Homo sapiens: one gene and its partners. The protein of the gene in region 2 interacts with the protein of the main gene of each other region in a pairwise test. Each region holds a gene or a part of one and is shown on either strand. Other genes may lie near its edges. The genes, in order: RAB38, DNM2 and FYN.

What was found.
Region 1: the proteins of DNM2 (region 2) and RAB38 interact in binary tests that used the Homo sapiens proteins (3 or more experiments, as listed by UniProt).
Region 3: the proteins of DNM2 (region 2) and FYN interact in binary tests that used the Homo sapiens proteins (3 or more experiments, as listed by UniProt).

The regions. Positions count from the first base shown.
Region 1 is NC_000011.10:88,173,621-88,177,369, forward strand, and holds the start of RAB38 (ras-related protein Rab-38), read right to left. Parts: upstream 1,824-3,749; 5' UTR 1,765-1,823; coding exon 1,563-1,764; intron 1-1,562. UniProt on the Homo sapiens protein: The small GTPases Rab are key regulators of intracellular membrane trafficking, from the formation of transport vesicles to their fusion with membranes.
Region 2 is NC_000019.10:10,716,082-10,719,830, reverse strand, and holds the start of DNM2 (dynamin-2), read right to left. Parts: upstream 1,753-3,749; 5' UTR 1,589-1,752; coding exon 1,428-1,588; exon of another isoform or gene 1,328-1,427; intron 1-1,327. UniProt on the Homo sapiens protein: Catalyzes the hydrolysis of GTP and utilizes this energy to mediate vesicle scission at plasma membrane during endocytosis and filament remodeling at many actin structures during organization of the actin cytoskeleton.
Region 3 is NC_000006.12:111,698,799-111,702,547, reverse strand, and holds part of FYN (tyrosine-protein kinase Fyn), read left to right. Parts: intron 1-2,279; coding exon 2,280-2,444; intron 2,445-2,877; coding exon of another isoform or gene 2,878-3,033; intron 3,034-3,749. UniProt on the Homo sapiens protein: Non-receptor tyrosine-protein kinase that plays a role in many biological processes including regulation of cell growth and survival, cell adhesion, integrin-mediated signaling, cytoskeletal remodeling, cell motility, immune response and axon guidance.

The DNA of each region.
Region 1 (3,749 bases), on a different chromosome or scaffold from region 2:
GTAAGCCGTTTCTAAATCTGAATCCTGAGGACTTTCGAGCAGCCAGAAGGGTTTTCAGACATTATGACATGCAGCAAGAAAGTACACAGAGAGAATTTTTTTAGATGAAAAGCCCCATCCAACAGTGGCTGATAACATTTTCTGTTCTCTGATAACCCCCTTGCTACTAGAGCAGCTGAAGATGACTCCAAATGCATGAATCTGTTCATCTGTTCACATGCTAAAAGAAAAAGGCCTGGCAGTTCATGATTAAAGAGGCACGAAAGTCCCCAGATCACAAATGCCCTTTCAAAAATTTTCCACATTTGTTCTAGTTTCAAGCCATGATAAAGAGTTTCCAATCAAATGCATCAGCTAAAATGAATCCATTTTCTGAAACAGAAGTGGCTAGTTTGGGTCCAGCACTTATAACGAAAGGTTCCTGGTGTCACAGACCATGAAATAAGACTGTTTGAAGTTGTTCCCATGGAGAATCCCAGAGGACTTTAAAACTTCTGAGCAGGAAGATCCTTGACCCTTGCCCAACTCCTTTCCACTTAACAGCGATGCAACTGAGCTGAAGAGACTTGTCCAAAGCCACTGAGCAGGTTAGTTAGTGGCAGGGCTAAAATCTGTAATGAGGGGTTGGTCATGCGCAGGTTGCAAACAGCCTTGTCCAAGGATTCACACTTGGAGTAGATACATTGCACCCTCACTTTTGACTAGGCCTAACTTCTGGTACAAACCTGTGGAGTCAAAATCTGATTTTAAATATTGTAAAAAACAAAAACAAACAACCTCTCATTTTTCAGATCTCTCAATGAAAACTTTAGGGCCAAATCAAGAAATCATAAGGCTATCATAGGCCCTTACATAAAAATGGCCTTAAAATATACACACAACCTCCTTTTCATAGAAGACAGAGAGCCAGAGAGATAGAAATACAGAAAGAGAGGGAGAAAGAATACTTTGCCCCTGACATATACACACAAAAGTACTTGGCTTACTGTAAGCAAAAAGCAAAAAAAAAAAAAAAAAAAAACAAAACAAAAACCCTCAAACTCCTTTGTCTTAAGGGCAGAGAGAAAGGTGACAAAATTTGAAATAAAGTGAGCCACTGAAGACAGGAATGGGCAAACTCCAGCTAGCCTGGAACTATCCCGGTTTCCTCTGTGAACCAGCCTAGGGGCTTCCCCTCGGTCCGCCCCTGCACGGAAGGACGTGCGTGACACTGGGCTGCGTCATTGGCAGAACTGCCCGCGCCCAGAAAACGAGCTGGAGTGGAGAACAGAATGCAATTGCAGACAATCTTCCTCTGGTTCCCTGGGGAGGCCTGCTCTGGGCAGAGAGATCCCAGGGGACTGTGCGGGAAGGAGCTAAAGCAATAGCCCAAAAGCGCCAGGGAATGCACTTGAAGTTTCAGACGTTTTTCTTTTCTTTGAAACTAAGTTTCCAGCCCACCAGGAAAAACTGCCTCGCGACCTAGTGATTTTAATCTCACGCTTGGCCGCAAGCCGCTGCCTCGAGACTGGAAACCGGCCGCGAGGCGCTCTATCCCCCTGACCCCCTCCCCCCGCGCTCACCTGCGATATCCCAGAGCTGCAGGCGCACCACAGTCTCCGGGTCCCAGTGGAGCACCTTGAGCGCGAAGTCCACGCCGATTGTGGCCCGGTAGTGCGAAGAGAAGTTCTGGTGCACGTAGCGCTTGATGATACTGGTCTTCCCCACGCCCAGGTCGCCAATCACCAGCAACTTGTACAGGTGCTCCTTGTGCGGGGCCTGCATCCTGGCGGCCGGCCAGACGTGCCGTGCCTGACCAGGGAAGCGCAGCCTGGGCTCTGCGCACGAGAGAGACTTGGGGAGCGCAAGTGTAGGTGCAGAGAGAGGCGTGGGCGGCGGGGCGGGGGCTGGGGGGCGGAACTCCTCCCCTAGGGGTTAATCCTCCTTCCTACTCCGCGGTCTTGGAGAGGGGAGGAGACAGGAGCGAGTCCCGGGACTGGCAGCTGAAAGGGGTTCGCGTGTGGTTGCCTGTTGCAGCGCTTATTTATCCGGCGCTTTAGAGTTTCCGAAGAGCTGTTTTCACCTGTGACCCTGGCCACAAACTTGTGAGGTGTGGATCTTATTTTCCACGTTTTGCTTGCGAGAAAACTGATTGTGAAAAAGTACTCTGCGGGAGATGGCCGGTGAAAGGCCCCGTTGACCACAGGTCTGAAGTCACAGGCTCTTAACTACCCCACACTGTAGAGAGAAATTACAGTATTAGGAAGCCCAAGACTGGCTGGGCTTGGTTCCTGCGTGCCCTGGTTTTTAAGTTGAGGGACCATAAGTAAGTCATTTGAGCTCTCACAGCCTGTTATTTCTCAATGAATGGCAATGCTGACCTCTGAGCAGCTTGGAGGTGGGAACACTGAGCACTTTCACACCCATTCAACTGGTAATCAGTTAACAAGGAGGACAACTGGGCCGAAAATGCCAAGGGCACTGGTGACTTTTAGCCTCTTCCCATATCCTAAAAACTCAGAGCTGCACAGAAAGACAGTTTTAACAATCGGTCAGATTATTACAAATAATAATAATGGCAAACATTTATTGAGCACTCGCTATATGCCAGAGGGTTTATAAATTATGTCATTTAGTCATCCCAGCTGTCTTAATAATAGATACCATTTTTCTTCCTATTTTACAAATGAGGAAGCTAAGGACCAGACATTTTAAGTAATGGACCCAGAGTCAAATAGTAAGGAAAAAAACCAAATTCAAACATAGGTCTTTAGGTTCCCAACTTCTTTTTGTTGTTTTTGTTGTTTGTTTTCATTCATTTGACCAATATACATTTTATTACCAATTAATATATGACAAATTGTACTTATTTTGTCTTGTCTGTCTCCACCTACAAGAAGGTAAATTTTTTTGAGGCCAGTAGGCATTGTCTGCGTTAGGATTTCTGTATCATCCTCCTAACGCAGACAATGCCTACTGGCCTAAGAAAAATTTACCTTCTTGTGGGTGGAGACAGGACAAGACAAAATAAATACAATTTGTCATATATTAATTGGTAATAAAATAAGGCAGAAAGGGGATGTGAAGAGATTATATGGGGTTTGCCTTTTAGATAGGGTGGCCAGGGAAGGTTTCAGTAAGATGGAGACAATTTAGTAAAGACATAAAGAAAATGAGAAATTGGGCATTCAGGGCTAGGGGGTGAGCAGTTTATACCAAAATGAGCTATTTTGTACCTGAATGTGCTGTGAAGGAGCTCTGCTCACATTCTATCATTTCATCTTCTCAATTGCTTTATGAAGTGGGTTATTTTCTTCAATTTATAAATAAGGAAACCAAGATTAACAGCAGCTTTCTCAAGGGCACACATAACTAGTATGTGTTAGAACTAGGACTTAAACACAGGCCTGTGTGAAAGGGAGAAAGGAGGTTTGGCAAGGCCATTGTCTTTCTGCCTTCCTCTTCTGGCCTGACACTCCCTAAACTTTAGCCTCCACATGCCCCAAACAAGCAGAGGGATGCTGAAGATGTGTACCCGGGACAAGTCACATAACCTCTGAGCCTTGGTTTCCACATCAACGAAAGGAGAATGATAATACCTATGGCAGGGCATGGTTGCTCATGATTGTAATCCAAGCACTTTGGGAGGCTGAGGTGGGTGAATCACTTGAGGTCAGGAGTTCAAGACCAGCCTGGCCAACATGGTGAAACCCGTCTCTACTAAAAATACAAAAATTAGCCGGGCGTGGTGGCAGGTGACTATAATCCCA
Region 2 (3,749 bases):
CTCCCAGCTCAGCTAAGGTGGGGATGATAACACAGCCTCCACCCCACTCCTTACTTGGGATTCAAGATGTTGAATCAAGAAGGGACATTATCCCTTGACAATGATAACAACAATAACAATGACAATAATGACAGGAGGAGGATGTTATCATTTGGCAGCCACACCACCACAAATGAGTAGTTCCTGGAATGGAGAAGTGGCCGCCCATCTGGGAGACAAGAAAGGCAAGAGGGGTTGGTGGGAGGGAGAGGTGGCTGCACGGGCTGTTCTCATTCATTTGCTTCCTGAATCCTGGAAACAGCCCCAGAGAGTGGAGTTTGCCCACTGGACAGATGGGCACACCGCGGCTTCTCAAGGCTGTCCAGAGAAGGCTACATCCCAGCGCTAGCCACTGAGGCCTGATCACGCAAGAAGCCCCTTCCCAGGCTCCAAAGGAGGGCCCCCAATTTGTAGGCTGTAGCTGGGAGGCGGGCCCCTGTGTTCTAGCACTCGGAAAGGAATCCTGAAGTAAGGTACCCCCAGAGTCCTCCTTCCAGCTGAGAGGGGAAGTAGGGTCCAAACCTCCTCCTTCAGCTCTGTTCTCCCCTCTACCCTCCTACCACCCCTTTCCAGAGCCGTTGTGCCAGACACTCAGGGGTAGTCATGGGCAGACTAGGAGATGGCCAGACAGACAGAAGAATTCACACGGAAGAGAGGAGCCAGCGCTAGCCAGGAATCAAGCTGTAAGAGTCAGCCAGAGAGAATCAAACAGGGTCCCCTAGGAGTCAGCTAGCCAGTCAGACAGTAGAGGCCAGCTGGTGTCACCCAACAGAGGGACTGCTCAGTGTTAAAGTCTGTGAGGGGCACGGATGGGCGGCCAGACAGCAGAGGTCACCCTGGACAGCTAGCCAGACAGCAGGGGGCTGCCAGGTGGGACTGGACAGATGGACAACCAAATGGTGGTGGCAGGGAGGCTTGCCCAGGACAGAGAGACAGCCAACCAGACGGCGGGGGCAGCTCCAGATACAAGAACAAGCCAGCCAGACCGCAGCGGTCGCCCCAATAGATATCTAGATGGCCGGTTTCACCTCTGATGGACAGCCCGAAAGAGCAGAAGAGGGATCTACCCCAGACCCACGGCCAACCAGATGGCAGACTTCACCCACGAAAGCTGGGACCAGATGGACCGCAGGGTTCCAGCGCACCTCCTGTCCTACGGCGCCCTGGCCCGTGACACCGCCCCTGGGGCCCGGGCCTGCTCCGGAGCCCCTGCAGGGAGTCCTCTGCCCAGGGCGTCCCACAGGGCCCGCCTCCCCGACCCCGTCCGGTTCCCCGCCGCGGGCACGCAAGCGCCGCAGTTACGCCGGCGGCGCACGGCGCGCCATTCCCGGTCCGCCCTCCGCGCCCTAGGCCGCCACCCGCCCGCGATCCCTGCCGCGCCCGCTCACCGGCCCACGAAGTTCTCCAGCACCGAGCTCTTGCCGGCGCTCTGGCCGCCCACTACAGCGATCTGCGGCAGGTCCAGGTGGCAGCTCTGGCCGATGGAGCTGAAGGCGTCCTGCAGTTTGTTGACCAGCGGGATCAGCTCTTCCATCCCGCGGTTGCCCATGGCGCCGGCGGCCCCCGGCCCGAGCGCCCTGCGCTCCTCGCCCGCCGCCGACCCTCAACGACCTGGCCCCGCGGCGTCTGTAGCCGTTGCTCCCCGCCCGCCCGGGCCTCGGCAAGACGCCCGCTCCCGGCTCGGCCTCACGGTCGCCGCCTCATCCGGTTCTCAGGCGACACCCGACCCGAGCGACCTCCCGCCCCGGCCCCGGGGGCTGCGCCCAAAGCACTCGCGCCGCACGCGACTGGCCTGCTGCACCGCCACTCGGATACACTAGCCAATAAAAACTAGGCACGGGCCTATGGTTGAGTAAACCTTCCCCCTGGGGACCGTCTTGCTGACTTATTGGACAAAAGAACCGTCACTGTTGTGCAACAGCCAATAGCGGCAGAAAGCAAGTTGTCAAGAGAGGAAGGGGGTGTTTCCGAAAAAGGCACGTTGGCTCTGCCCATTGGCGAAGTTCCACCATCTTATTGGCAGGCAGACGTGCCAGTAGACAATGTGGACCAATGGTGTTGGGGATTGAGCTACTACCTCGTTCCCTAAGAATTTCCCATTGGTTCATATAAATATCACTTCGTTGCTCCAGCCAACCAGGCAAAAGAGGGCGGGCTTTAACATCCGAATCTTGACTATCATTGAGAACCATATCTGTCAATCAGAAAAACTCCCGTTCTTCCTTGTGATTGTTGGATGTCTGCAACAGCCTTCTGAAGTATAGGATAGATCCCACCGTACTCGCTCAAGGGCGACACCTCGTGGTGGGATCCGATGTCTCGATTTTTGAGTTTCCTGGCACTGGGGAAAACTACAAGTCCCAGAGCGCATCTCAGTTCCCAGACTGCAAACCAGCTCTGGGAGCAGGGTCCCAATGCGCTCTGCAAATGGTAGAGGCCAAGTCATTGCTTCCTAGGGATAGAACGCAATAAAATCACTCCTCCACGCCTTTGCAAATGCTGTGCCCTTTCTGCTCACGCCCGATCTTGACGCCGCTAACACTCCAATGTTTTCCCCCACTTCTTCAACTTTAGCAGATCATGAATCTTTTTTCTTTTCTTTTTTTTGAGGCGGGGTACTCACTCTGTCACCCAGGCTGGAGTGCAGTAGCGCGATCTTGGCTCACTGCAACCTCCGCCTCCCCGGTTCAACCAATTCTCCTGCCTCAGCCTCCCGAATAGCTGGGATTACAAGTGTGAGCCACCACGCCCAGCTAATTTTGTATTTTTAGTAGACGGGGTTTCACCATATTGGCCAGGCTGGTCTCGAACGCCTGGCCTCAAGTGATCCGCCCGTCTTGGCCTCCCAAAGTGTTGGAATTACAGGTGTGAGCCACCGCGTCTAGCTAATGAATCTTCTTTTCTTAGAAACTGGGTCCTTACTCTGTTGCCCAGGCTGGGGTGCAGTAGTGCACTCATAGCTCAATTCAACAAGCACCTGGGCTCAAACGATCCTCCCGCCTCAGCGTCCCGAGTAGCTGGAACCACAGACGTGCGCAACTATGCCCAGCTAATTATTTTTATTTTATTTTTTATAGAGACAGGGTCTTGCTGTGTTGTCCAGGCTGGTCTCAAACTCCTGCGCCCAAACGACCCTCACAGGCCGGCCTCCCAAAAGTGCTGGGATTACATGTGTGAACCCCCCCAACTGGCTTTAGATCTTTTTGAGTACCCACTAAAACTCAACAAATCCTCTCCCCGTGAAAAGACACGCTATTTTGTAGGCAAAATTGGGGTTCTGGGAACTGGAACTCCTGACAGTGGACAGAGACAAATAGGAGGATTTGAAGTGTTTTGACCCCTCTGGAGACAAATAGGCCAGAGACAAGGAAACCCAGTGAGAAGGCAGGAGCAGGTAAGTGCTCTGACCTGAGGCAGCACAAGAAGATGGAGAAAGAGGAGGAGGGTGGCTCATGGCATTTGCCTGTTTTGTGACCCAAAACCCCAGGTCTCAAAGAAATAGGCAAAAAGCGCCAGGTGCGGTGGCTCATGCCTGTAATCCCAGCACTTTGGGAGGCCAAGGAGGGCAGATCACCTGAGGTTAGAGGTTCGAAACCAGCTTGGCTAACATAGTGAAACCACGTTTCTACTAAAAATACAAAAAATTAGCCAGGCGTGGTGGTGCGTGCCTGTAATCCCAGCTACTCGAGAGGCTGAGGCAGGAGAATCGC
Region 3 (3,749 bases), on a different chromosome or scaffold from region 2:
GGAGGGCGCTTACATGGGGACTCCTACAAGGAATATTGTGTTTCCACTATCACTTTACCCTCAGCACTGTTGCAGGAATAGCTGCACGTACATTTCATTCTCATGCAAGCCATTTATCATGTTCCCCACCAATACTGCTGTTTCCTAACTAGGCTTAGACTTACACAACCCACAGCTCTTAGATCTATTATGTCTATTGTGTTAAATTAAACTTTTATAATGTACATCAGTTTCTGTCCTAACACCCAGATATCACCATTATTTTGTTCTTTCTGAAAACATATAATTATTAGATATGCAGTTTATACATTTTATCAAAGACTGGTTTTATGTGCAATTGTTAAAATGATTGCTTTCTTTCCTAGATTAGCAAGTATTATATGCCACTATATAATACATGTTCACATGTGCCTATAGATATAGGTGCACATGTATAGACACATGTCTATATCCTATTAAGCCTAGAGATATTTTTTTGTGTGACCCATTTCTCCATTTTCTATTGTTCTCCAGGACAAAGGCAAGACTCAAAAATAGTATATGATTTACCTCTACTATTGCTCTGTGCACAATCATTGAAATATGTATGTATAATTTTTGGCATGAAAAAGCAATCTTTCGAAAATGACAATAAGAAATGTCTGTTGATCCCTTGCACTAATGAACAATAGAAAATATTAACAGCACTTGCAGTACTAGTTGATTATGGCATTGGCTAACTCGGTTTATGTGGATTCTAATGAAACATTTGGGAGAAATGGAACAAAATATCTCCCTGAGCTTAAGTGATATACTCAAAATGCCTGCATGTTGTAAGGATTTTTCAAATGCTGAAATATATTTCATTACAGCCAAACATCAGCAGGATCCCCAGGGTTTGGATCATTTGAAAATACTGTGTTCGAAAGGGCACCTTAATAACATTGTAAAGCTGGAAGGAAAGAGGGGATATGAACAATAGACACTTTTTTTAATCTCGGGGAAAAAAAATCCATCTCACGTTAGACTTGTTTTTATATTGGCTTTCCCTCTTCCCTCTTTCTCTCTCACACAATAAAATGCCTTTGAAATGCTGACACATAAATAATTTCCTACCTAAACATCTCAGAGCCTGATTCCATCAAAAAGAAAGGAGTAAAAAGCAAGTTACAGCCCAGCAGCACATCTGCTTTCCCTGGGTCCGGGGGCTGCCAGGAGGGAGCGGGAGGTCTGTCCACCTCACAAGGCAGGCTCTGTCAGCTTTTGTCACTCCCTGATTTCTTATTCTTTGTTACCTTTTTTCGCCTGACTGATTTTTACTTGGCATTTAAGTTCCCCTTAGCACTGCCAGATTCTAAAAGGTTATATTCTTTTTAAAAAAGAAGAGAAAGAAAGAAGGAAAGAAGACAAAGAAAGAATAAAAACCTCCGAGTGTTAACTACTTTTTCCTTTCTTCTTTTTTTTATAAAGAATACATTCTTTCACATCTTGAATTTCTGTGAATTTTAGTTTCCATTCTTTCTCCTTTCAAACCAGACACCTAAATTATACGTCGAAGACTGTTAAAAAGTTGTTTTTTTTTTTTTAATGGAAAATATCCAAGAAGCAGCCCAGGAGTATCTGACATGGTGGAATGGAATCAGTTAGAAAGCGAAGAAATCACTAAAAAAAGTTACTTCTTTTTTTCCCCACCAGTTATAATCTTCAACCTTACTAGTTTATAACAGTTTAATGTCCTATAGAAGGATCCTCCACTAAAGTTATAATTTTAAGTATAGTCATATAGAGAGATCCCTAATCCCCTGGGTAATCTAGATACTAAAGGTGGGGAAGAACAGTCATATTGACATTCTTTAATCCAAAACCACTGTTTGAAATTAGTAAGGATATTTTCAGCATTCCCAAAAACATGTTATTAGCACGTTGAGCTGAAAACGTTTTTCTTCCTCAGTGAGTACAGAAACCAAAGCAGTCTGCGTGTATGTCTATGTATAGACTGTATCGTACCTGGGCTCATGGAGTAGTCTAAATTTAAAACGTCCTCTCTTCTACCTCCAATGAAAATGTTTCCGTGTGTGGCGTCTGATCTTCCACCGTGTGTGTGGTCGTCTGCTGGTGTAGCGCTGTTTAAGGAGCGCTGTGTGCTGCTAGTGTTCCACGATGTGTGTGGTCGTCTGCTGGTGTAGTAGCACTGTTTGAGGAGCACTGTGCGCCGCTAGTGTGGGTTTACACTTATGAGTGTTGTCATTACATGTGTTCTGCTCTTCTCTCCCTCTCCTGCCCCTGCCCTGCTCCATCAGAGAGAGCTGCAGGTCTCTGCTGCCGCCTAGTAGTTCCCTGTCACAAAGGGATGCCAAGGCTTACCGATCTGTCTGTCAAAACCAAAGATGTCTGGGAAATCCCTCGAGAATCCCTGCAGTTGATCAAGAGACTGGGAAATGGGCAGTTTGGGGAAGTATGGATGGGTATGCTGAGACTCAATTACTCTCTTATTAGCTTCCCCGTTTGGAAGATCCCAAACACCAAAGATGGAAGGTGAAAATAAAGACTGCGTGACCGGGAAGAAAGTTTGAATTACTAATAGTGGGGAATAATAATTTCAGTTTTGGTTTTAACATTCTGGAATTCCTAAAAAAAAAAAAAAAAAAAAAAAAAGATAGTAAGTGGGCAAAATTGGCAAATGGCTCAAGTTGTACTATTACATGACTCTCAATTCATAAACCAGCAAATGGTCCAAGGAATGTTCCAGCTGCCATAAAATATCTTGCTCTTCATTTCCAAAAGCAAATATTTGTTGAGTGTCATCCTAACGGGCAAGTCACCTTCCATCTTTCCTAGTGCATGCATAATTATGGATTATAAGGACTGTGTTTTCTTTATTAATTCCCTTTCCTGTAGAGAAAGCTGATGGTTTGTGTTTTAACTTAACTGTGATTGCATCGAGTTGTACCCCACAAACTTCTGGATTGGCTAAAGATGCTTGGGAAGTTGCACGTCGTTCGTTGTGTCTGGAGAAGAAGCTGGGTCAGGGGTGTTTCGCTGAAGTGTGGCTTGGTAAGGCAGAGGGCACATTTTGTTTTGGCTGCATCTCAAAGCCGATTAAAAGGATGGTTTTGAACAAAAATGCACACACAGCCGTTGGGACAAAGACACTTAACCTGGATAACTAGACGGGCACAGGCCATCCAGATTTTCAGAATATGCTGATACCTTGCTGTGCTCATCTGTCCTACTTCATGTGGTTAATTAAGGCACCCGCAGAACAGGAAACCAGTACACTATGAATCTGGTGTTTCCTCTTCCTAAGAAATGGGAAGGTAAGATACTGTATATGGGCAGCCATAAGAAAGACCATGGACGTTTTGCTCAATGGGCCTGGGTTTGAATCCTTACTAGCTAATTAACCACGAACAAGGGGCATATTTAACTCCTTTAAGCCTCAGTTTTTTCATCTGTAAAATTGGAATGATACCTTTTTGTTGTTGTTGAGACGGAGTCTTGCTCTATCACTAGGCTGGAGTGCAATGGCGCGATATTGGCTCACTGCAACCTCCACCTCCCAGGTTCGAGTGATTCTCCTGCCTCAGCCTCCCGAGTAGCTGGGATTACAGGTGCCTGCCACCACGCCCAGCTAATTTTTGTATTTTTAGTAGAGACGGAGTTTCACCATGTTGGCCAGAATGGTCTCGATCTCCTGACCTGGTGGTCTGCCAGCTTCATCCTCCCAAAGTGCTGGGATTACAGGCGTGAGCCACCACGCCCGGCTGGAA